Homo sapiens: one gene and its partners. The protein of the gene in region 1 purifies or fractionates together with the protein of each later gene. This does not show direct contact. Each region holds a gene or a part of one and is shown in the gene's direction. Other genes may lie near its edges.

Region 1 (8,687 bases):
TGATGGAATAATGTGAGCAAGTTAGCTGGTACTTGGCAAATCTCCCTAAACTATGTGATCTTATTCTCGAAACAGAAACAATGGCTACAGTTCCATAGGTTTTAACTTCTGATCATTTTCACTTCCTTTGTCCTATCTCCACAATCTGCTGACATAGGGGGTGTTTTCCATTAAATCAATGGAGAACAGGGGGACTGGAATCTCACTTGGACCCTTCTCTCTTGCCTTTTCTTCCCCAAGTTGAGAAAGCTCCTCAGCTTTAGAAAAATCCATTTGGCACCAATAAGTAAGGCAGGGAGGGGAGCCACACAGCAGAGGGGAAGTGTGGACTTAACTCATTCTTGGCTGCCGTACCTTTCAGGGACATAAAATAGAGACCGACCCCAACAACTTTGCTCTGAAACACAGAGGGTACCTGAAATGGTCCTCTTAAGAACTAACTGGCTCCACCCAATGCAGTACAGGGTAACTTTCATAAAGACTGAGGCAGCTAACCTGGGCAACATAGCAAGATCCCCTCTCTAAAAATAAAAATCAAAAAAATTAGCCAGGTGTGGTGACACATGCCTGTAGTCCCAGCTCCTCTGGAGGCTGAGGCAGGAGGATCACTTGAGCCCAGGAGTTTGAGGCTGCAGTGACCTATGTTTGCACCACTGTACTCCAGCCTGGACCACAGAGTAAGACCCTGTCTCCAAAAAAAAAAAGAAAAAAAGACTGAGGCAGCCTTGTGTGTTTTGATTTGGAGCAATTTTAGATACATCGTCAAGAGGTAAAAGCCCCCATATCATATTTTTCAGGGGACACTTAAGAAACTCATACTAGTTGTTGCTCCTGGAGAGGGGAGAGGCTGACAGGGGAAGAGGTGGAAGGGAGACTCACTTTTTAATATCTATCCCTTTATGTCATTTGAAATGTATGCTGTAAGCCTACAGTACCTATTCAGAAGATAAAATTTAGGCATGGTGCAGTGCCTCACACCTGTAATCCCAGCATTTTGGGAGGCCAACGCAGAAGGATCGCTTGAGCCTAGGAGTTCAAGACCAGCCTGAGCAACATGGTGAGACCCTGTTTCTACAAAAAAATTAAAAATTAGCTGGCCATGGTGGCATGCACCTGTAGTCCCAGCTACTTGGGAGGCTGGGGTGGGAGGATCGGTTGAGCCTGGGAGGTTGAGGCTACAGTGACCCATGATCACATTATTGTACTACAGTCTGGGTGACAGTGAGACACTGTCCAAAAACGATTTTTTAATATAAAATTTAGTTGAAAAACAAAAGTTTTTTTTTGTTTTTTGTTTTGTTTTGTTTGTTGGCAGAGTCTCGCTCTGTCATCTCGGCTAGAGTGCAGTGGCGTGATCTCAGCTTACTGCAACCTCTGCCTCCTGGGTTCAAGCAATTCTCCTGCCTCAGCCTCCCGAGTAGCTGGGATTACAGGTGCGCACCATCACACCCAGCTAATTTTTGTATTTTTAGTAGAGACAGGGTTTCGCCATGTTGGCCAGGCTGGTCTTGAACTCCTGACCTCAGGTGTTCTGCCCACCTCGGCCTCCTAAAGTGCTGGATTACAGGCCTGAGCCACAACACCCAGCCAAAAAACAAGTTTTTTGTCTTTATCATTCAAAGGCATCTCTTTTATCCTCCGCTCTGAATTAATAAGACAGCATGAGAGAATTCAGGCAACTGGGAAGACACTTCATTTTCAGGGTTTGTTGCAGCAGGGTGAAAATTATCTATTGTTCCTTGAAGTTCAAAATACAGGAATTGCTCTGGTTTTCCTGGGCCACCTGGCAGGATACATTTGCCAGGCAGCTGGCTTACAGGAACCCTCTCCCATTACTGAGGGTTTCCTGGGGTGCCAGACACTTTATACCATCAACTCTTTTTCCCTCAACTCTGTGAGGTAGATGCTAATAATCTCTCCATGTGACAGATGAGGGAGGTAGGTAAGTGGCAGAGGATGCATTTGAAGCAAGTTCTGGCAGCTTCTGAAATCAAGCTTTTTTGAGAAAGATAATACTTGGGTCTGTGGGGTCTGTGTTTGCTTTCTCCACCTCTTCCCACATCTGGAACAAGCCCTGTCTCCTCTGAAGGAAGAAGAAAGTAGGAACCACAGAACTGGAGAGCATGGCCAAGGTTGAGGACTGAAGCTTCTGGAAACAACACAGTGGGATTTTGAGAAAATAATTGAGGAAGGAGATCCCCGCTGACTCAACTGTCCTGTGCAAGGCAACCCTTTGCCCCCCAACCCAAGCAAAACCAGCACATCCATTTATGAACAAATGCCTTCAGTAAATAGATGTTGGGTCACCATTGGGTACCAGGAACTGGGATGCAGTGGTGAGAAACACAGACAAGGCCCCATCCTCATGGGGGTTACACTAAAGTTTCCCTTCCCACTGCAGCCCCTCAATTGGTGGTAATACAGTGCAGTATGGAGAGCACTGGCTAGAATCAGACAGCCCATGCCACTGCTTATAACTGTGATCTTGAGCAAATAACTTAGCCTCTCTGTGCCTCAGTTTCTTTTCCTGTTGCCAGGCTAGAGTGCAGTGGTGTGATCTCGGCTTACTGCAACCTCTACCTCCCAGGTTCAAGCAATTCTCCTGCTTCAGCCTCCCGAGTAACTGGGATTACAGGTGTGCACCACCGTGCCCAGCTAATTTTTGTATTTTCAGTAGAGATGGGGGTCTCACCATGCTGGCCAGGCTGGTCTCGAATTCCTGGCCTCAAGTGATCTGCCCGCCTCAGCCTCCCAAAGTGCTGGAATTACAGGCATGAGCCACTGCGCCTGGCCTGTGCCTCAGTTTCTACCTCTAAAATGGTGATGATCATAGTAATAGCCATCTCAGGATTGTGTGAGGGTTCCATGAGATGACATATGTAAAATATTTTGCATAGTGCCTAGCACAAAGTAAGTCTTTACTTTGTGGGTCTTTCCAGGACGGCCTAGATAGAACACCTACTATGTGCTGGGAGTCACAAGGGACACTGAGAGTGGGTCCTATCTTTGGGGAGTGCTTGACATAGGAGATCTTGAGGAGAGGAGATGCTAGATATAATTTTGTAGGCTGGGCGCGGTGGCTCACGTCTGTAATCCCAACACTTTGGGAGGCGAGGTGGGTGGATTGCCTGAAGTCAGGAGTTTGAGACCTGCTTGGCTAACATAGTGAAACCCTGTCTCTACTAAAAATACAAAAATTAGGCCAGGCGCGGTGGCTCACGCCTGTAATCCCAACACTTTGGGAGGCCGAGGTGGACAGATCACGAGGTCAAGAGATTGAGACCATGCTGGCCAACATGGTGAAACCTCGTCTCGACTAAAAATACAAAAATTAGCTGGGCATGGTGGTGCATGCCTGTAGTCCCAGCTACTTGGGAGGCTGAGGCAGAAGAATCACTTGAAGGGAGGCGGAGGGTGCAGTGAGCCAAGATGGCGCCACTGCACTCCAGCCTGGGCGACAGAGCGAGACTCCATCTCAATAAATAAATTATAATATAATGAAAAAAATGTGTAGAATGACTCGGGCGCAGTTGCTCACGTCTGTAATCCCAGCACTTTGGGAGGCCAAGGTGGGCAGATCACTTGAGGCGAGGAGTTCGAGACCAGCCTGGCCAACATGGTGAAACCCCGTCTCTACTAAAAATACAAAAATTAGCCAGGCATGGTGGAGCATACCTGTAGTCCTAGCTACTCAGGAGGCTGAGGTGGGAGAATCGCTTGAGCCCTGGAGGCGGAGGTAGCAGTAAGCCAGATCGCGCCAGTGCACTCCAGCCTGGGCGACAGAGTGAAACTGTCTCAAAAAAACAACGAAAAAATTGTTGAATGAATGAATGAATGCATGAAGAAATGGATAACTATGAAGCACCGTCCAAGGCGGAAAAAACCCGCCCTAAACCGCACCCCAAGCAAATTGCACACACGGCTTTCCCGGAGTGGACACCAGAGGGCGCTGAGCTCGGCCGCTCTCAGCTCCGGATCAGGATTCGCGCCTGGGTCCTTAGGACGACGCCGCGTGGTGACGTCATATCCGCCTGGGCGTCACGCTTCGTGGGGCGGGACGAGGAGAAGCCAAACGTAAAGACACCAGGAGTTTCTCGGGCCCAGCTGTGGCTGCTGCCGGGGAGCCCCAAGCCTTGGCGGGTCCTTGCGGCGAATAGGAGTCTGGTCAGGCGTCAGGCTAGTCCGACGAAGAGTGGGTAGGTGGAAGCCTTCCAAAGAGCGGCGGTTGTCTGGGAGCCGTCTCAGTTGGCCGCGACCCGGGCGCATGCGCGGGGCGGGCGGTGCGCCTTGGGTAGCTTGTCCTCTCCGACCCCGGGCGCTGAGGGCCTCTGTACGGCGCCGCGTAGGGTCTCGGCCGCAGAACGTGGCCGAGAGGCCCGGGCGAGACTTCGGGACCGTGTCCTGAGCGCTCTCCATGCGCCCGGCGCGAGGTGAGCGCTAAATAGTGGTTGTTGAAAAATATTGAAAGCCACCCAAGTGCTCAGCAGTAAGGATATTGAGCTTTTTAAAGTGATTGATTTAGTCCAAAAATTGTACGTCGCACGCCCACTGTGCACGACCCAGTGTTTTAGGGCCTTGGGAAACAGCAGTGAACAAGATAGCAAGATTCTTGGAGTGGACTTTTGTTGGGGTGGGGAGGGGAAGTACAGATAAAGATAAACGAGTTACATAATTGTCATAGAAAAAGGCAAATGCTACGAAGAAGAAAGCAGGGACGGGGCATGGGGGTGGGGTGCGGTGTTAGCCGAGAAGGGCACTGGGCCAACCCGATTGAGATTTGAGCTAAGCCAGGAAGGGGGCAAGGGTGTGAGTCCGGTGGCTGCCTGGAGGAAGATCTTTCCCAGCATGGGGAAAAGCTAGAGCCGAGGCCCAGCGGTGGGAGCGAGACTGGCGCGTGAGAAAGAGCTAGGCTAGGCCTGTGTGGTGGCGGGGATTGAGCGGAGGGAGAATGGCAGGACATGAAGTCAGAGGTGTAGAGGGAGCAGTCCTGCAGGTGAGGCAGAGCCTTGCAGGCTGCTCTAAGGACTTTGGCCTTACTCTGGATAAAACGGGAACCATAGCAAGATTTTGAGCAGAGGAATGATGTAGCTTGAGTAGATGTTAATAGACTCACTGGCCGCCGTAGGGATGGAGAAGCGGGGGAGTAGGGAGAATCAGATTTATTACTAATAGGTCAGATTAGGAGCATCCCTGCGCAGCCACTAAAAAAGGCTGACTCTAGGCCGGGCGCGGTGGCTCATGCCTGTAATCCCAGCACTTTGAGGGGGCCGAGGTCGGCGGATCACTTGACGCCAGGAGTTCGAGACCAGCCTGGGCCAACATGGCGAAACCCCATTTGTACTAAAAATACAAAAGTTAGCTGGGCGTGATGACGTACGCCTGTAATCCCAGCTACTCAGGAGACTGAGGAGCGAGAATTGCTTCGACCCAAAGCACTCCAGCCTGGGCGACAGAGTGAGACTCCATCTCAAAACAAACAACAAGACTGACTTTAAAGATGACGATGACAGTAACTTCGTGAGCCCACATCTGTGGAGAGCCTGGTGAATATATTTAATACCAGTCTGTACAAAATAATTTCCCAGGTATCCTCTCCTTTAATGTCAGAACAGCCTGCAGAGGGCAGTGCTGTCATTTGTAAGTCTTTTTTTTTTTTTTTAATTGCAAAAAATACGTGACATAAAATTTATCGTAAGTAGCATTGAGTACATTCACAACGCTGTGCAGCCATCACCACTGTCCATCTCGTGAATGTTGTGTAAGTCTTCGTTTTACTGGCATCTAAGCCCTGGGTCTAATTTCACTCCCCTATTTTAGGCAGCCAGCTCCATCAAGGCAGTAACACTAAAAAACATTTATGTGCCAAGCAATGAAAGAAACAGATGAGGTTTCTTGTTCTCCCTGCCCTTCTAGTTAGGGGAGACTCTAGTGACTGGGAAAGAAGCATCAGGTAACTATTTCCGCTGTCCTGAAACCAAGGATTCTTTTGAATATATAGGCCTATACCACTATCACTTTTCTCTCATTTGAATACCTACTTTGTGTCATAGTATTACAGTATTTTTTGTTTGTTTGTTTTGGAGACAGGGTCATGCTCTGTCACCCAGGCTGGAGTGCAGTGGTACAATCACAGTGCACTGTATCCTTAACCTCCCAGACTCAAGCTATCCTCCCACCTCAGCCCCTGGAGTAGCTGGGACTACAGGCACACACTACCATGCCTGGTTAATTTAAGTTTTTTTGTTTTTTTTTTTAGTGACAGGGTCTCACTATGTTTCCCAGGCTGGTCTCAAACTCCTGGCCTCCCAAACTGTTGAGATTACAGGCATGAGCACCACGCCAGGCCCCAAAGTATTAATGTTTGTTGAATGGATTGGTAGATGTAGCTCCTTGACCCTGACTTCTTTTCTCCAGAGGTCATCATCTGGGAGTGGTTGGAACTGGGTCTAACCCAGAGTGGTTTTGAAATGCTGGTCCATAGCTCTGTGACCTTGGATAAGTCCCTTTCCTTGATTGGGCCTCAGTTTCCTGTTCCCTGTAGTGGGGGATCCATATATTAAACAAATAGACAGTGTTAAGAGATTGCATAACATGGGGGCTTAACTTAGAGAAGGGTGTCAGAGAAGACCTTCATGAAGAGGTGGTATTTAAACTGAAAGTTGAAGGATGAATAGGACCTATCCAGAGGGAGAGCAAGGTTGGCATGGAGCCAAGGAAAGGAACTGTCTACAGAGAGATGAGCATGTTCTACGTTCTTGAAAGTTCAGACCTTTTAGAAGCTGCATTGAGTGCCCCTTCCAGGAATCCCTCTTCTCAACCCCTGTGCTGTTTAAGCTCAGTTGTTCACAGATAGTCTTGCACAGACCTGGCTTTTGGACTGAGAGCAGGCAGACACAGGATGGGAGGAGACGGCAGAACGACCATCCCTCATTCTTCTCTTTGTGTTCTGTGTTGACTGAGAGTAAACAAGAAGAGGACCTTCAAATCTTAGATTTTACTCCTTTATGTCTTTTCTTTTTCTTTGGATAAAGAGGCATCGTAACTGGTCTTGAGTGGGCTCAGAGTGGTTGGAATCTCTGGGCACCCTTGGGCAGATGTTACCTACGTTTACTAAACCTCTGTGTCATCTTCTCGAAAATGGGAATAATAATACCTCTTACCTCAGGAGCATTTTGAAGACAAGCTAAGGCATGTGAAATGTTTAGCAAAGAGCTGGGTGCTCATAAGGAAAATTGTTAGCCAAAATTATGTTGTTATGTTTTAAGTAAGAGTACAGTGATTTGACATTTATAGAATATAGAAACTTATTTTGTATTCGTATGGGTAACCTTAGTTTGATCAGAATTAGATGAGTTACTGTGCTCAGAAGTCTTAAAAACCAAACAGGAGGCCAGGCACAGTGGCTCACACCTGTAATACCGGCACTCTGGGAGGCCGAGGCAGGCGTATCACGAGGTCAGGAGTTCGAGACCAGCCTGACCAATATGGTGAAACCCTGTCTCTACTAAAAATACAAAAAAGGTAGCCGGGCGTGGTAGCACATTCCTATAATCCCAGCTACTCGGGAGGCTGAGGCAGGAGAATTGCTTGAATCCGCGAGGCAGAGGTTGCAGTGAGCCAAGATTGTGCCACTGCACTCCAGCCTGGGCGACAGAGCAAGACTCCTTCTCCAAAAAAAAAATAATAATAACAGGAAGGCCGGGCCTGGTGGCTCACACTTGTAATCCCAGCACTTTGGGAGGCTGAGTTGGGCAAATTGCTTGAGCCCAGGAGTTTGAAACCAGCCTGGGCAACATGGTGAAACCCTGTCTCTACAAAAAATACAAAAATCTGCTGGATGTGGTGGCACGTGCCTATACTCCCAGCTACTCAGGAGTCTGAGGCAGGAGGATCACCTGAGCCTCGAGAGCCAGAGGTGGAGGCTGCAGTGAACTCTGATTGTACCACTGCACTTCAGCCTAGGTGACAGGGTGAGACCCTGCCTTAAAACAAACAAACAAAAAAAACCCAAATAGGCCAAATTCTCATCAAAACTCTGAAAAATAGCATGTGCATTGGTCATTTCTAGCCCTCTTGACTTACTGTAGGTGTGATCAGCACTGGAAAAGATGCCTGCCCCTGCTGCCACATATGAAAGAGTAGTTTACAAAAACCCTTCCGAGTACCACTACATGAAAGTCTGCCTGTAAGTTTAGTTTCCTAAGTTCTATTTTAGATTACTTTTCTAACATGAATCTGAATAGAATGAAATTTAATATGACTTTTTTTTTTTTCACTTTTTTTAGAGAATTTCAAGATTGTGGAGTTGGACTGAATGCTGCACAGTTCAAACAGCTGCTTATTTCGGCTGTGAAGGACCTGTTTGGGGAGGTATGGAATCACTTGGTAGATTGAACATTCCAAAGATCTTTGTAAGAAATACAGAAAGAGGCCGGGCGCGGTAGCTCACGCCTGTAATCCCAGCACTTTGGAGGCCGAGGTGGGCAGATCATGAGGTCAAGAGATCGAGACCATCCTGGCCAACATGGTGAAACCCCATCTGTACTAAAACTGCAAAGATAAGCTGGGTGTGGTGGCAGGCACCTGTAATCCCAGCTACTCGGGAGGCTGAGGCAGGATAATTGCTTGAACCCGGGAGGCAGAGGTTGCAGTGAGCCGAGATAACGCCACTGCACTCCAGCCTGGCA
Region 2 (9,014 bases), on another chromosome or scaffold:
TGTAGAGTGCTTCCTCATTTTTTTTAACAGCTACATATGTTTTACAATATAGATGTACTTTATTTAATGAGTCACCATTGCTTCTGATATTTTGTTATCATAAATAAAACTATACTAAACACACACACACACACACACACACACACTTTCTCTAAGTAACTAAGCTTTTCTTTCCCCTGGATCCCAGGAGTGCTTTGGTTGTATCTTCCTTATACTATGTACAGGATCCTGCCTCGTGTTGTAACTCATCCTGTTATTATCCTGTCTCCCAAGGTATCTTAGACTCTAAACTCCTTGAGGTCAGGGTAATGTCTTACCATGTCTCTGTAGCTGTGTAGGGTGTAGGTGATTCCTTGCATACAGTAGGCACACTATAACTACTTGCTGATGTTTTGCTCTTTAACCACTTAGTAGCATAAACAATTTTGGTTGTCAGTGAATCTCTTTTTAGCAGGACCTGTTGACTTACAGCAAATGCTTTGGAGAGAGCTAAGGAGGTATGTTTAAACTTGATAACATGATTCAGAAAGTCTAGAAAGTCTTCTCAACTATCTGGCTTTCATACTGGCCCACAAATAGATAACTACTGAGTTTGTTAATTTGTAATCTTTTCTCGGGTTAAATAATACCATCAGTAACACTGTTTTTTATTAACTGTCCTGTGTAGAATTAGGCCGTCTGCCCTAGGTCCTGTGCAAAGTGCCTTCAGCTTTCCCCATATCTGAAACACACTTTAAGACCATATGCATTATTATTTATCAGAAACTTCATGATAGTAAAAAGAAACTCTTTTATTTTCAAAATATAAAAAGCAAGCACTGGAGCTGAGACCATCTGAGCTATGTGAGTTATCTCTTACAGATCTAAAGAGGTTTGTTCATAAGAATAATTGGCTAGTTGACACTTTCTGAGCATAAGAATCCTACTATCCAAAGACAAGTGGTTGGACTTCAGAAAATTTAAAAGTGCACTGTTCTACTACCAGGTTAAAGGGTAATCACACTTTCAAAAGCATTCTAATAATTCTCACATCATAGTCTATACCACACGGGCTACTGCTTCAAAAATTTATAATTATGAGGACGGTGTGCAAAATGCGCAATGCAAAGCAATGCAATGTTGAAATCTTTCAAGGTTCTGTCTGGAAGTATTCCTGAAATGTGCTGAGCTGATTGGCTAATTAGTGACAACACCCCATCCATCCCAATGCCAGGGACTGAAAGTTCAACACATTTGAATTCTTCCTGGAGAGGACCCAGGATTTTCAAAAAGTGTACTCACTACACACTCCACGCACAAAAACTCTTGTTCCCAAAAGGTTCCTAAAACATGTCCAATTAACATAAGTAGTTAGTTGCAGTCTGTTTTTTTTCTTAAACATTAACTATTGAAAATAAGCACCATTTCTAGTCACCTAGTGCACAAGAGGCACAATGTCCTGGAAGTCTCCACACCATGAAGCTGGCTGGTGGCTTTTTTTCTTGTCATACTGGCACATTCATATGATGATTCCCCTCTTTTTAGCTTTCAGCTTTATAAAGACAGTTGACTCCCACCTACCTTCAAGTCAACCAGGAACATTACTGTTATGCTTTCTTTCCTGAACAAAGTCCACAGAGTATCTCTAAATAGGTCAAGGAAGGGGTATGCTCTTTAGCAGGCTCCAGGACAAAGTGTCTCTAATAATCACTTTGATTTGGTTGTGTCCCTCTTGTTTGGAGGTAAAGATGTTTTTCTAAATGCTACCACTGTGTGATTGAGAGAAAGACATTAGGGCAGAAGGAGAAAAAAAATCACAAATTTTTACTTATAATATCCCCTAACTATTCTCACTTTCTTTACCTCCAAATTTCTATCAGAATTACTATCAGAATTCTTTTTAAAAGATCTGATCATGTTCCACCCTGCTTAAAAACATTTAGCCTGGGCAACATGGTAAAACCCCAGCTCTATAAAAAATACAAAAATTATCTGGGCATGGTGGCCTGAGCCTGTAGCCCCAGCTACTTGGGAAGCTGAGGTGGGAGGATGGCTTGAGCCCGGGAGGTTGAGGCGACAATAAGCTGTGATCCCGGCTCCAGCCTGGGTGACACAGCGAAACACTGTCTCAATATACACACATACAAACACACAACCACAACAACCACAAGAAAAAAACCACATTTAATTGTTCCTTATTATATACAAAATAAAGTTTATATTCTTCCATTTAGTATTGGAAACCACCACAACCTGTACCCTGCTAAAATCTTTTTTTTTTTTTTTTGAGACAGAGTCTCGCTCTGTAGCCCAGGCTGGAGTGCAGTGGTGCGATCTTGGCTCACCGCGACCTCTGCCTTCCAGGTTCAAGCAATTCACTGCCTCAGCCTCCCGAGTAGCTGAGATTACAGGCATACGCCACTATACCCAGCTAATTTTTTTTTTTTTTTGGTATTTTTAGTAGAGACGGGGTTTCACCATCTTGGCCAGGCTGGTCTTGAACTCCTGAGCTTGTGATCCACCTGCCTCGGCCTCCCAAAGTGCTGGGATTACAGGTGTGAACCACTGTGCCTGGCCAAAATCTAATTTTTGTTGGTCACTTTTATTTAATTCCCACAATAATCTTATCAAATGGTATTATTTATGCCCATTGAGAAGACAAAGAAGCAAACTAAGAGAGGTTAAGTCACTCTGCAAGATCATATAATTAAAAAGAGGCAAAACAAAAATTCAAATCCAAAGTCCAACTCTTAATCAGTATTTCTCAAAGGAGTCAGTCATACACAGTAAGACTTATACACAGTCTTACATAGTAAGAAAATGATTCCTTTTCCAATTTTTTTTTTCAATCTACACCAGGGACAACAAAGTAAATGATTAAGACTAGGCTCTAGTACCCATTTCCTAAATTCAAATTTTGTTACATCACTTTTTAGTGGTGTAACTTTTGGCAAATTATTTAATTTTGCACACATCAGTTTCTTCATCTGAAAAATAGGGACTATAATATAACCATGCACATAAATAACTTAGAACAGTGCCTGGTGCTGGCCAGGCATGGTGGCTGACACCTGTAATCCGAGTACTTTGGGAAGCCGAGGTAGGTGGATCGCTTTAGGTCAGGAGTTCAATACCAGCCTGACCAACACAGTGAAACCCTGTCTCTACTAAAAATACAAAAATTAGCCGGGTGTGGTGGCACCTGCCTGTAATCCCAGCTACTTGGGAGGCTGAGACATGAGAATCACTTGAATCTGTGGGGTGGAGGTTGCAGTGAGCTGAGATTGCACCACTGCACTCTAGCCTGGGCAACAGAGTGAGACTCTGCCTCCAAAAAAAAAAAAAAAAAAAAAAAAAAAGGGATAGTGCCCAATGCTGCTGAGTAAGCATCAGTAAATGTTAGCAATGATGACTCTACCCCGTTTGATTACATTAAGGAGAAAAAAAATCATCTTTAGAAAACAAATTAAAACATCACTTGAAAGTTTTTAATTAAACTTTTTTTTTTTTTTAAATAGAGATGGGGGTCTCACTATGTTGCCCAGGCTGGTCTTGAACTCCTGACCTCAAGCAATCCTCTTACCTCGGCCTCCCACAGTGCTGGGATTACAGGCGTGAACCACAGTACCCGGCTAAAGAAACATCACTCTTAACAAAGAGAGAGCAGGCCTCAGGTTTTGAGCCAACTGCAATATCTAGCTAAAATTTAATAATACCTTTTTTTAATTGAGTTTATTTTTTACTATTACTTTCTATTGAATTGTTTTCTATTTAGTGTACTGTTGTAAAGTTTCCTTTTTCAATTAACTTGTTAAATAAAATGAAGTGAGCCATCTCAAAGAAATAGGTTAAGTAAATTATAAGTGATATACAGATTTGGCAAACAAACAAACAAAAAAGACAGAAGTAGCACTTGAATTATGAAAACTTTCTCCCCAAAATCTTTATACCATGCATTCTTCTACCTCCATGCCCTCACTCAAGCCATTCCCTCTACCTGACTTCTACCTCCATGCCCTTCACTCAATGACTTCCTGTTGAAATCCTTAATAAATTAATTTAAAAATCAAACTTTACAACACTACTATAAATGACAAAACCAACCTTCAAAACCAAAGGACTACCTCTCACAAGGAACCTTCCTAAATCTTCTTTTTCCTCTTCCACCCCAAGTTAAAATCAATTTGTCTTTTTTCTCCTTTACTCCCTACCCCACTTGCCCTCTCACTTCTACTGCATTTTATTTATTTCCAAGTTTTCTATAATAATTCCTGTTCTGCCACATCTCAGTGCCTTTTCTCACAGCAGTAGGTTTAAAGGAGGGAGCTGTTGATGGGGCTCTTTTCAGTTGGGAGAGAGGCAGACCAAGTATGAAGCTAATGAAAGAAGTTGGTCATAAAGGACTGCATGTTTTATGATTCAATTTATAGGAAATGTCCACAACAAGCAAATCCATGAAGATGCAAGTAGATTGTCAGGGGCCGGGGGAGAGGAGAATGGGGAGTGAATGCTAATGGGGATGGGATTTATTTTTGGGGTGATGAAAATGTTCTGAAGAAAGTGGTGATGGCTGCACAACTCTGTGAGTATGGTCAAAACCACTGAATTGTACATGTTAAAGGGGGTGAATCTTACGGTACGTGAATTATATCTCAATAAAGCTGTTACCAAGAAAACAAAAACGACCCCCTCCCCCAAAACAAAACACAGGGTCTGAAGGCTTCTAACTGGGGAGAGCTTTCTGGCAGGCTGTGCTCCGCAGCGAGGCAGCCCCAGAACGAGCAAAGTCCCATGGAGTGCAGGTTCCTGGTCCCATCGTGGCTCCCAACTCTCTGTGGGTCTTCGGGCGCGTTGCTTACTTTCCAGGCTCAATTTCCTTGCGTGTTAGCTGGGGCTCCGGCCCGGAGTGGCCCCAACCCCGAATCCCCGAACCCGCACGCCCTGGGTCCGACACAGCTTCCACCAGCCACGTTACCTGTAGGGTCCAATGGCCCCTGGGGCTTTCGCGGTGCTGATCACCCTTCTGATCAAGGACGACATGGCTAAGCCTTCCCTCTTGCAGCCCCTTCAGGAGAAGAAGCCCCAGCACCAGCCCTGCTGGCTTCTTACTGGACTGACCAACCACAGCAGCGCCTCTGCCCCACAGCTCCCGCTGGGGGCGGGCTCGTGCGGCATTCTGGGAACTGTAGTTTCGGCGACGCTCCAGGCCACGTGGAGGAAGCGCCCGGTCTGGCGCATGCGCTCTCCAGCGCGCTCTCCAGGAGCTTTGGCTCGGTGGGTACTGTCGCGGAGGCTTGTCATTCTGACCCGGGGATTCCTCACAGCGTCTGGCAGGTTGGTCGTGAGGGGCTGGTGCCTTCCAGGATGCGAGTGTCGGGGGAACTGTATGCGGCGGCCCCCCTCCCGGCGCCCGTCTCCCCTCTTCATCGTTTCTCTCTCAGACTCCGCTGACCTCTTTCCTTGCTGCCTGTGCCCGGGGCCCCTCTCCCTGGTGTCGCATCTCCTTCGGCCCCTGCGCTGGAGCCCCCTACGTCAGTCATTTCCCTTCATTGCCCCGCCGGGTGGAGGCCGTCCTGGGAATGGGCTTGCATCCCCTCTTCTGCAACCCCAAATGACTAATATGGGTCATTCTGGCGACCACGCTGAGATCTGGGCGTTGGTCCTCCCGTGTTCCCTTTCCTGCTCCTCCTGTGTTCCCTTCTCTAGGGTGCTCCTCGGGCTTTACAAGGTCACTGTCTGAACAGAGCCCTAGTGATTGGGATATCATTTCAGAAAGAAAGATGGTGATCTGGAATGGCCCAGATCCCTTGTAAGTATTCTGCTGTGTCAGAAGGGGTGGTACTTGGCTAAATATTTCTTATCCTGTTAATATTTGCATTGTAAGTACGCTTCGTTTCTTCATTTATGCGGGCACTCATAGATATATGAGTCCCTACTTTGTGTAAGGCACTCTGCTAGATGCTAGGAGGAATGCAACAGTTAAAAAAAATAATAATAAAATCTCTGCCTTCCCTGCTTCCTAAAGATAATACAAGAAAATCTGCTTTATTCCCTCTCATTTTGTCCTACATACTGCTAAGGTTTTGGCCTTCCTACTTCCGGCTCAGGAACCTTCTGATCTTTTTCATTGGTTTGGGGCCTGGAATAAAAGACCTTTCAGTCTGGCCTCCCCTTGCCTATTCAAGTTTCATTGTCATCTACTCCCTTTTCCCACTAGAGTCCTCCTGTATTCACACTGTGGATTCCTGAATACTCTTTCTTCCTTATCTGTGCAAATTCCAGCTAACTGAAATTCTATTTTCTCTTTGACTTTTCCTACCAATTCACATTTTTTTCTTTTTCTTCTTTCCTTCCTTTCCTTTTCTTTTTCTTTGTTTTCTTTCTTTCAAGACAGGATCTCACTCTGTCACCCTGGCTGGAGTACAGTGGCATGATCTTGGCTCACTGAAACCTTGACCTCCTGGGCTGAAGCAATCCTCCAGCCTGAGCATCTCAAGTAGTTGGGATTACAAGTGCACACCAGCACGCCCGGCTAATTTTTGTATTTTCTGTGGAGACGGGGCTTCTTCATATTGGCCAGGCTGGTCTCCAACTCTTGGGCTCAAGCAATTCTCCCACCTCAGCCTCCCAAAGTGCAGGGATTACAGGTGTAACCATTATGCCCGGCCTCATTTTTTTTCTTTCCCTTGTCCTGTTTCCTATTGTGCTGTACCGCATAATTTAGTATTTTATTATATGAGATCCTATTTTCTAATTGTTATGTGTTTCAAGAATAGTGGATTGGAGAGGGAAGGGGTGGAAAAAAAAAAAAGAATAGTGGATAGAGTCAGACTGCCTGGTTTGAATCTCAGCACAATCACAAGCTTAGTAGCCTTGGACTGGTATATAAAATCTCTGTGCTTCGATTTCTTCATTTATAAGATGAGAATAATACTAGTGACCACAGAGTTGTGAGAATTAAATGAATAAGTCATGTAGAATAGTGCCTGCCACATCAAGTTCTCAATGCTGCCTAAGATGACAAAATTCTTATTCTACTTTGGAATTATACACAGCCTGAAACTATTGGGCACATAGTAGGTGCCCAAAAGTTTATTAAATCTGATTAAACTAGATAATTAAGACATATTTTTATTTACAAAATAATTCACCATTTAAGTTTTTAAATAAGAAGCTATTTTGGAGCATTACAAATGATTCAACTTGTGTAAAATATTTCTTGTGAAACAAGGTACCTTTATTCTTAAGACAGATTTTATATCAAGTCTGAATCACCAACTTTTTAGATCTGGAAGAAAATAGACATCATCTAGTTAGTTCCCAGGTTCTCAAACTGGGAACTAACTAACACCAAAGGTTGTGTCTGGCCAGAGGATACTAAGCTGTATCAGAAAACATAACGTATCCATTTTATTTGAAGATTTGGCGAAAATATTTTTATAAAGGCAGCACATATTTAGTGCTTATTAAAGTTTGACAAAACTGACTTGAAGGTGAAGGTAAGAGTTAAGATTCCTTCTGGAAACTTTTTTTTTTGAGACAGGGTCTTGCTCTGTCACCCAGGCTGGAGTGCAGTAATGTGATCAAGGCTCACTCACTGCAGCCTTGACCTCCCTGTCTCAAGCGATCTTCCCACTTCAGCCTCCCGAGTAGGTGGGACCACAAGCTCATAACTATGCCTAGCTTATTTTTTGATTTCTTTGTAGGGATGAGTTCTCACTATGTTGCTCAGGTTGGTTTCTCCTGAGCTCAAGCAATCCTCCCGCCTTGGCCTCCCAAAGTGCTGGGATTATAGATGTGAACCACCACACCAGGCCTCTGGAAACTTTTAAATTAAATCCTCAGACTTCATAAAGATGCATCCTATATTCATTCCCTTCTGCTGTTAGAGGACCACTGCCAGTTTGATTTCCTCATATTTTAGTCTGGACCCAAAGCTCAGGGATGTTCCCAAGGTTATCCTAATCCTCCAGCACCAACCTTTTCTTGGACCATTCTAATACTGAGGGGAGCTAGAGTTTCTATGGTGTTCTTGTCTAGCCTTGCTGGTGAGTTCTGATTCAAGCAGGTAACAGTAGGTTAACTAAGTTGTTTTGTAAAATATTTGGAATGGCTTTTAATGCAGACCGATCTGAATCATGTGCTTCACTAGCCAGCCAGTTCTGCAGAACTCCATTTACTTCCTTCATACTGTTTAATTTGAAAAATGTTTTTGCATGTAGATATAGCTGTCTTTCATTTAGTTGAAATTAGTGGAGTGAGACAGTGAAATGGCATCAATCCCTGCTATTTCATTTATTATTTAAGAATAATAGCTACCATAAACTGAGCATTTAGTTAGCATAAAGCCCCATGCTAAGTGAGTTGTGTATATGCATTTTGCAAAGCCAAAACCATGTACAGTATGTATATGTTTGTTCATTTTTTTATTTTGAGACAGAGTCTCACTCTATCGCCCAGGCTGGAGTGCAGTGGCGTGATCTCGGCTCACCACAATCTCCGCCTCCTGGGTTCAAAGGATTCTCGTGCCTCAGCCTCCCGAGCAGCTGGGATTACAAGCGCATGCCATCACACGTGGCTCATTTTTGTATTTTTTTTTTTTTTTCTTGAGACGGAGTCTTGCTCCGTCGCCCAGGCTGGAGTGCAGTGGCGCGATCTCGGCTCACTGGAAGCTCCGCCTACCGGGTTCACGCCATTCTCCTGCCTCAGCCTCCCGAGTAGCTGGGACTACAGGCGCCCGCCAACACGCCCGGCTAATTTTTTGTATTTTTAGTAGAGACGGGGTTTCACTGTGTTAGCCAGGATGGTCTTGATCTCCTGACCTTGTGATCCTTCTGCCTCGGCCTTCCAAAGTGCTGGGATTACAGGCGTGAACCACCGCTCCCGGCCTCATTTTTGTATTTTTTAGTAGAGATGGGATTTCACCATGTTTGCCAGGCTGGTCTTGAACTCCTGGCCTCAAGTGATCCACTCGCCTTGGCCTCCCATAGTGCTGGGATTACAGGCATAAGCCATCCCACCTGGCCTGTATATAA
Region 3 (5,764 bases), on another chromosome or scaffold:
ATACTTTTTATAAATGTTGACAGTTTGAGGTAACAAAATATTCTGATTTGCTGAATTGTGAGTTTCATTTGTATAATTTTAGATGATAAGAGCACTTTTGAAGAAACGTGTCCATACTGTTTCCAGCTGTTGGTTCTGGATAACTCTCGAGTGCGTCTCAAACCCAAAGCCAGGTTGACACCCAAAATACAGAAACTTCTTAATCGAGAAGCGAGAAACTATACACTCAGTTTTAAAGAAGCAAAAATGGTGAAAAAGTTCAAAGACTCCAAAAGTGTATTGGTAAGATTTCAGTTCCAGTATGTATGAGTAAACTAGAATTTTCTTTTCTTTCACTTAAAATCAGTTTAAGAATCAGCCTCAGTATAACTCAGAGATTTATAGTAGTATATTTGGATTATCAAAATATATACATAAACACTTCTCTAATGATTAGTGTTTCATTATAAGGACAGCTTACTTTTATTTTTCATGATTACCTAAACCAAACATGGTGAGCTCTCAATTGTTTTGAGATCCCATTGTTGAGCATTATTTTTCACAAATGTGCGGATTTCTTGAACTGACCGTTATGGCTCCACCTAAATTGCAGTTACCACTACATTATTTTTTCAGTTAATGCTCCTTTGCTTCAGATAGTACTATGTTATGTATGTAGGTATCATGTCACTTCTTCAGCTGTCCTCCCACTCCATGTCAGAGTGGATTTACAGGTATGCCCAACAAAGGTGAATGCATCTTTTGTTCTTTCAACATTTTATTGAGGGTCTATCATATGCCAAGCAACATTTAATATTGGGGATATAAGATGGAATAAAACAACCAAAATCAGATTACGTACGGTTTACTATATGGAGGCCAGTAGCAAATACACTTTATATCCCTGCATATTTTATGTTAACATTTATCAACTGTTCAAGTGCCTGCTTATTGTCTATCACTGTGCCGGGCACTGGACATTATGACAGCTTATGTCTGGCCTAAGACTATAATTAGCAATTACTTGGATTGAAAATTGTCATATTTAGGAGTTTACCAGTGTTGGTCAGGTAGGTGCATTTTGCTTTGTCATAAAATTGAATGGTTAAAGGGAAAGAAAGAAGAGATAGAATATTGAAGTGAGTATGGAATTCGGTTTCTTAGTTCTTGGAGAATTGTATTTTTCAAAAATCATTACTGCCACATATTTGGAAAATGTTCTTAAATGGGAAGACAGCAAATGCTGCCTCACTATCTTGCAGTGTTTTGCCCTCATGAAGCTTACATTCTAATGTATTTTAATCAGAAGTCAGCTAGAAAGGTGCTAGAGGTATTTGTTTTTCTGATTTTTTTTTTTTTTTTTTTTTTTTTTTTTGAGACGGAGTCTCCCTCTGTCGCCCAGGCTGGAGTGTAGTGGCGTGATCTCGGTTCACTGCAAGCCCCACCTCCTGGGTTCACGCCATTCTCCTGCCTCAGCCTCCTGAGTAGCTGGGACTACAGGTGCCCACCACCACGCCCGGCTGATTTATTTTAACCTGTATACAGCCTCCTTCCAAAAAGTGTAAAGCAACATAGACCTTTGATAGATGCAGATCTTCCATTGGCATTTTCATCTGCTCATGAACATCAAACTACTTCTCACTTAAACTAGTTTGTATTAATTTGCCGAGGCATGGGCTGAGTCCTGTGCACAGTCAATTAGATATGTAGAAGAAAGGAAATTAGCTAGAAAATGGACCATTTCTTGAGAAATGAATCTTGAAAAGAAAGACAACCTCTAGAGCTAATGATGGGAGTGGAGAGGTGTGAGAGTATAACAACTCATTTGGTTGTATAAGTTACTTTAGACCTATGTTTACAAAATTGCTAAGGATTTGAAGGGGCTACTTAAATTTCCAGTGATACTGTGCCATGTTGTTTTTGGGAAGAGGCTTGAAGTTCATCTGCAAAAAAATATTAAATGCTTACTGCTGTTACAAAGAACATTCCTCCAGATGTTAAAGAGTATTATCTCCCATCTCTTCCCAAATTCCCACCAAACATGGTTTTATATTTAAAAAGTAGAGTTCATTATCTTTGAAAACCTATTTTAAATTAAATACAAATGTTTAGCCATTCATTTTTATTGAACATTTTCTCATTTAAAATTTGTCGGCTGGGCACAGTGACTCAAGCCTGTAATCCCAGCATTTTGGGAGGCCGAGGCGGGTGGATCGCCTGAGGTCAGGAGTTCAAGACCAGGCTGGCCAACATGGCGAAACCCTGCCTACTAAAAATACAGAATTAGCCAGGCACAGTGGAAGGCGCCTGGTCTCAGCTACATGGGAGGCTGAGGCAGGAGGATCACTTGAACCCAGGAGGCAGAGGTTGCAGTGAGCTGAGATCACGCCACTGCACTCCAGCCTGGGGACAGAGCAAGACTCCGTCTCAAAAAAAAAAAAATGTCTTGTCTGATTCTCGCTACTAGATTGCAAGTTCCCCAAGGACAGCCTCTATTTTACTTACCCCTATAGTATCTGGTGTAGTCCCTGACATTTAAGAATTCAATGAACCTGTGGTTTATGGGGTTAAATTATAAGATAAATGACGGGACTGATATTTCTTATTTTTATGGTAGTTGATCACTTGTAAAACATGCAACAGAACAGTGAAACATCATGGTAAAAGTAGAAGCTTTGTGTCAACATTGAAGAGCAATCCTGCCACTCCTACAAGTAAACTCAGCCTGAAGACACCAGAGAGAAGGACTGCAAACCCAAATCATGACATGTCTGGCTCGAAAGGCAAGAGCCCAGCATCGGTTTTCAGGTATCTTAATCCATGAAGTTTTTGAATTGCCAGTGTTAAGTGTTTTCTTCTAATTTCCTGTGTTTAATATATACTCCCTAAATATGCCATGCATTTCAGGACTTGGCCATTTTTCCTCCATACCCTTTTCTAATGTCACATACTCCCATATCTTCAATGCTCATTTCAATGCATTTGACTTCTAGGTATGTTACTCTACTTCCAACATCTCCTGTGCCTATTTCCAGCTGCCTGCTAAATATAACCACTTCAGTCCCCTACATGTTCAAAACTTAGTTCATCATTGCCCCACAGCTAACCACTCAAACCTGTCCATCCTCCTGAGTTCCTTATTCTGTGAATGAACACACCTTTCTGGACATTTTGACCTAAAATGACAGGTACATTCAAAAATCCCTATTCCCTTGGTCCTTGTCACCGATTTCTATATATCCTACTTCCCTGTTTTCATCTTTTTGCTCCTTTTTCTCCATAGTGCTGCTATATTCTGGTTCAGGTCCTTATGCACCATTTGTCAGGACTACTGCAGTGATTTTCCTCATGGGTCTCCCTGCTTCTAGGATCAAACTCTTTTAGTGTGATCATCTTTCTGGAGCATAGCTCTGATTAGAAGCATCACTGTGTAGCATATGGATAAATGCTCTAGCATGGCTTTCCAGCCCTATCTGGCACCAGTCTGTCTGCCTGTCTTTCTTTGCCTTAAATCATCCTATGTGCCAACAAAACTGAACCATTCACGGCCGGGCATGGTGGCTCACACCTGTAATCCCAGCACTTTGGGAGGCTGAGGTGGGCGGCTCAGGAGTTCAAGACCAGCCTGTGCAACACGGTGAAATCCCATCTCTACTAAAATACAAAAGATTAGCCAGGCGTAGCGGCGTGCGCCTGTAGTCCCAGCTATTTGGGAGGCTGAGGCGGGAGAACTGCTTGAACCTGGGAGGCAGAGGTTGCAGTGAGCTGAGATGGCGCCACTGCACTCCAGCCTGGGCGACAGAGCGAGACTCCGTCTCCAAAAAAAAAAATACTGAACCATTCATAATACACTTTCTTGCCCTAAACATTTGTTCTTGCCCTTTTCTCTGTCAGAAATTCCTGAGGAAATCTAACTGAACAGGGATTTGTCAAATGATAATACACCGAGGATAGCCAGTGCATGTATATGGCCATAATACAAAAGAGTAGAAAATGATTGTCATTTGTTGGTATAACTAAGTGTGGTTTTGTTTCTTTTCAGAACACCTACATCTGGACAGTCAGTATCTACTTGCTCCTCAAAGAACACCAGCAAAACAAAGAAACACTTCTCTCAACTAAAAATGTTACTTAGTCAGAATGAATCCCAAAAGATTCCAAAGGTGGACTTCAGAAATTTCTTATCTTCTCTGAAGGGTGGACTTTTAAAATAAGAAATGCCTGATGTCAATTCTGAAACTAAAGTTGGTAAAACAACTTTTTAAACTCTTATTCATTTTTTGAATACATGGAAACTAGATCTGAATGCAAACTTTTCTTGGCATCCTTCAGTGTTTATGGGGAAAATACCTCATTAGTGTGAATACCTGAAACCTGCCTACCTCATAGGACAGCTGTGAGGATCAAAAAATATATGAAAGTTCCTTGTAGATACATATCTATAGATATATATGTGTATGTATATAAAGATAGATATATACATTGAGTAGTGGCATTACTGTTTTTTCTTCCTTTAGTCAGCAGTTTTTATTTATGTTATTGTCTTTCAAAAGGAAATTGAGATCTTTATGAGAGGGTCTATTCACTCAAGGGTTTCTTCCATGTGTCTATAGCATTGTTGATAATTCAGGAATAGGATCAAGTGGGTCCTTATTTTCTCACAATTATCTGCATAACTATCTTAGTAAAACCTGAACCTTATTCCTATTTTGATTGCAAAAGTAAATATCTGGAACATTCCTGATTATAGATCACTCAATAGGAAACTAAAATTTTCTTTCTTAGAAAAGGAAACATACTGTTGGTGATACTATAAATTAGTACAGCAACTTTGGAAAACAGTATGGAGGTTCCTCAAAAAACTAAAGGTAGAATTACCATATGATCCCATATCTGCATATATATCCAAAGGAATTGAAATCAGTATGTCAAAGAGATGTCTGCCCTACAGTGTTTCATTGTAGGATTATTCACAATAACCAAGATATGAAAACAACAGAAATGCTTGTCAAAGGATGGATTTTTGTAAATGTGTATATACACAATGGAATACTATTCAGCCTTTAAAAAGCAAGAAATTCTGTCAGTTATGATAACATGGATGAACCTAGCGGACATTATGCTAAGTGAAATAAGCCAGACACAGAGAGACAAATACTGTATTATTTACATGGGATCTAAAAAAGTAGAGCTCATAGAAGTAGAGGATATAATAGTGATTACTGGAGGCTGTGGTTGGGGGAGGGGAAATTTCAATTAAGAGGAATAAGTTCTATGATCTCTTGTACAGCATGATGACTCTAGTTAATGTATATTTCAAAATAGCTGAAAGAGGATTTTTGGCCTTTTTTTTTTTTTTTTTTTTTTTTTTAAGAGACAGAGTCTTGCTCTGTCATCTGGGCTGGAGTGCTATAGCATGATTATAGATCACTGTAGCCTTGAACTCCTGGGCTCAAGTGATCCTGTTGCCTCAGCCTCCAGAATAGCTGGAACTACAGACACACACCACTGCACCTGGCTAATATTTTATTTTAATTTTTTTCATTTCCCACTATAAGAAGCCATAATTTTTTTTATTTTTTGTAGAGGCAGGATCTTACTTTGTTGCCCAGGCTTGTCTTGAATTCCTGGCTTCAAGCAATCCTCCTAACTCAACCTCCCAAAGTGCTACGATTACAGGTGTGAGCCACAGTGCCCAGCCAAAAGAGGGTTTTTTAATGTTCTCGCCACAAAGAAATGATAAATGTTTGAGGTGATGGATCTATTAATTAGCCTGATTGGATTA

What was found. Proteins that work in one complex are often made in the same cells at the same time.
Region 2: the proteins of RPP14 (region 1) and POP1 purify together in Homo sapiens (co-immunoprecipitation; 2 studies listed by BioGRID and IntAct, with this or other methods). This does not show direct contact.
Region 3: the proteins of RPP14 (region 1) and RMP24 purify together in Homo sapiens (affinity purification with mass spectrometry; 2 studies listed by BioGRID and IntAct, with this or other methods). This does not show direct contact.

Annotation. Positions count from the first base shown.
Region 1 is NC_000003.12:58,302,222-58,310,908, forward strand, and holds the start of RPP14 (ribonuclease P protein subunit p14), read left to right. Parts: upstream 1-4,023; 5' UTR 4,024-4,196; intron 4,197-4,298; exon of another isoform or gene 4,299-4,430; intron 4,431-8,087; 5' UTR 8,088-8,108; coding exon 8,109-8,185; intron 8,186-8,285; coding exon 8,286-8,370; intron 8,371-8,687. UniProt on the Homo sapiens protein: Component of ribonuclease P, a ribonucleoprotein complex that generates mature tRNA molecules by cleaving their 5'-ends.
Region 2 is NC_000008.11:98,112,078-98,121,091, forward strand, and holds the start of POP1 (ribonucleases P/MRP protein subunit POP1), read left to right. Parts: upstream 1-5,215; 5' UTR 5,216-5,313; intron 5,314-5,762; exon of another isoform or gene 5,763-5,788; intron 5,789-9,014. Other genes in the region: RIDA (2-iminobutanoate/2-iminopropanoate deaminase), read right to left, coding at 4,955-5,019. UniProt on the Homo sapiens protein: Component of ribonuclease P, a ribonucleoprotein complex that generates mature tRNA molecules by cleaving their 5'-ends. Also a component of the MRP ribonuclease complex, which cleaves pre-rRNA sequences.
Region 3 is NC_000018.10:35,974,814-35,980,577, forward strand, and holds the end of RMP24 (UPF0711 protein C18orf21), read left to right. Parts: intron 1-82; coding exon 83-282; intron 283-2,596; coding exon 2,597-2,787; intron 2,788-4,021; coding exon 4,022-4,193; 3' UTR 4,194-4,465; downstream 4,466-5,764.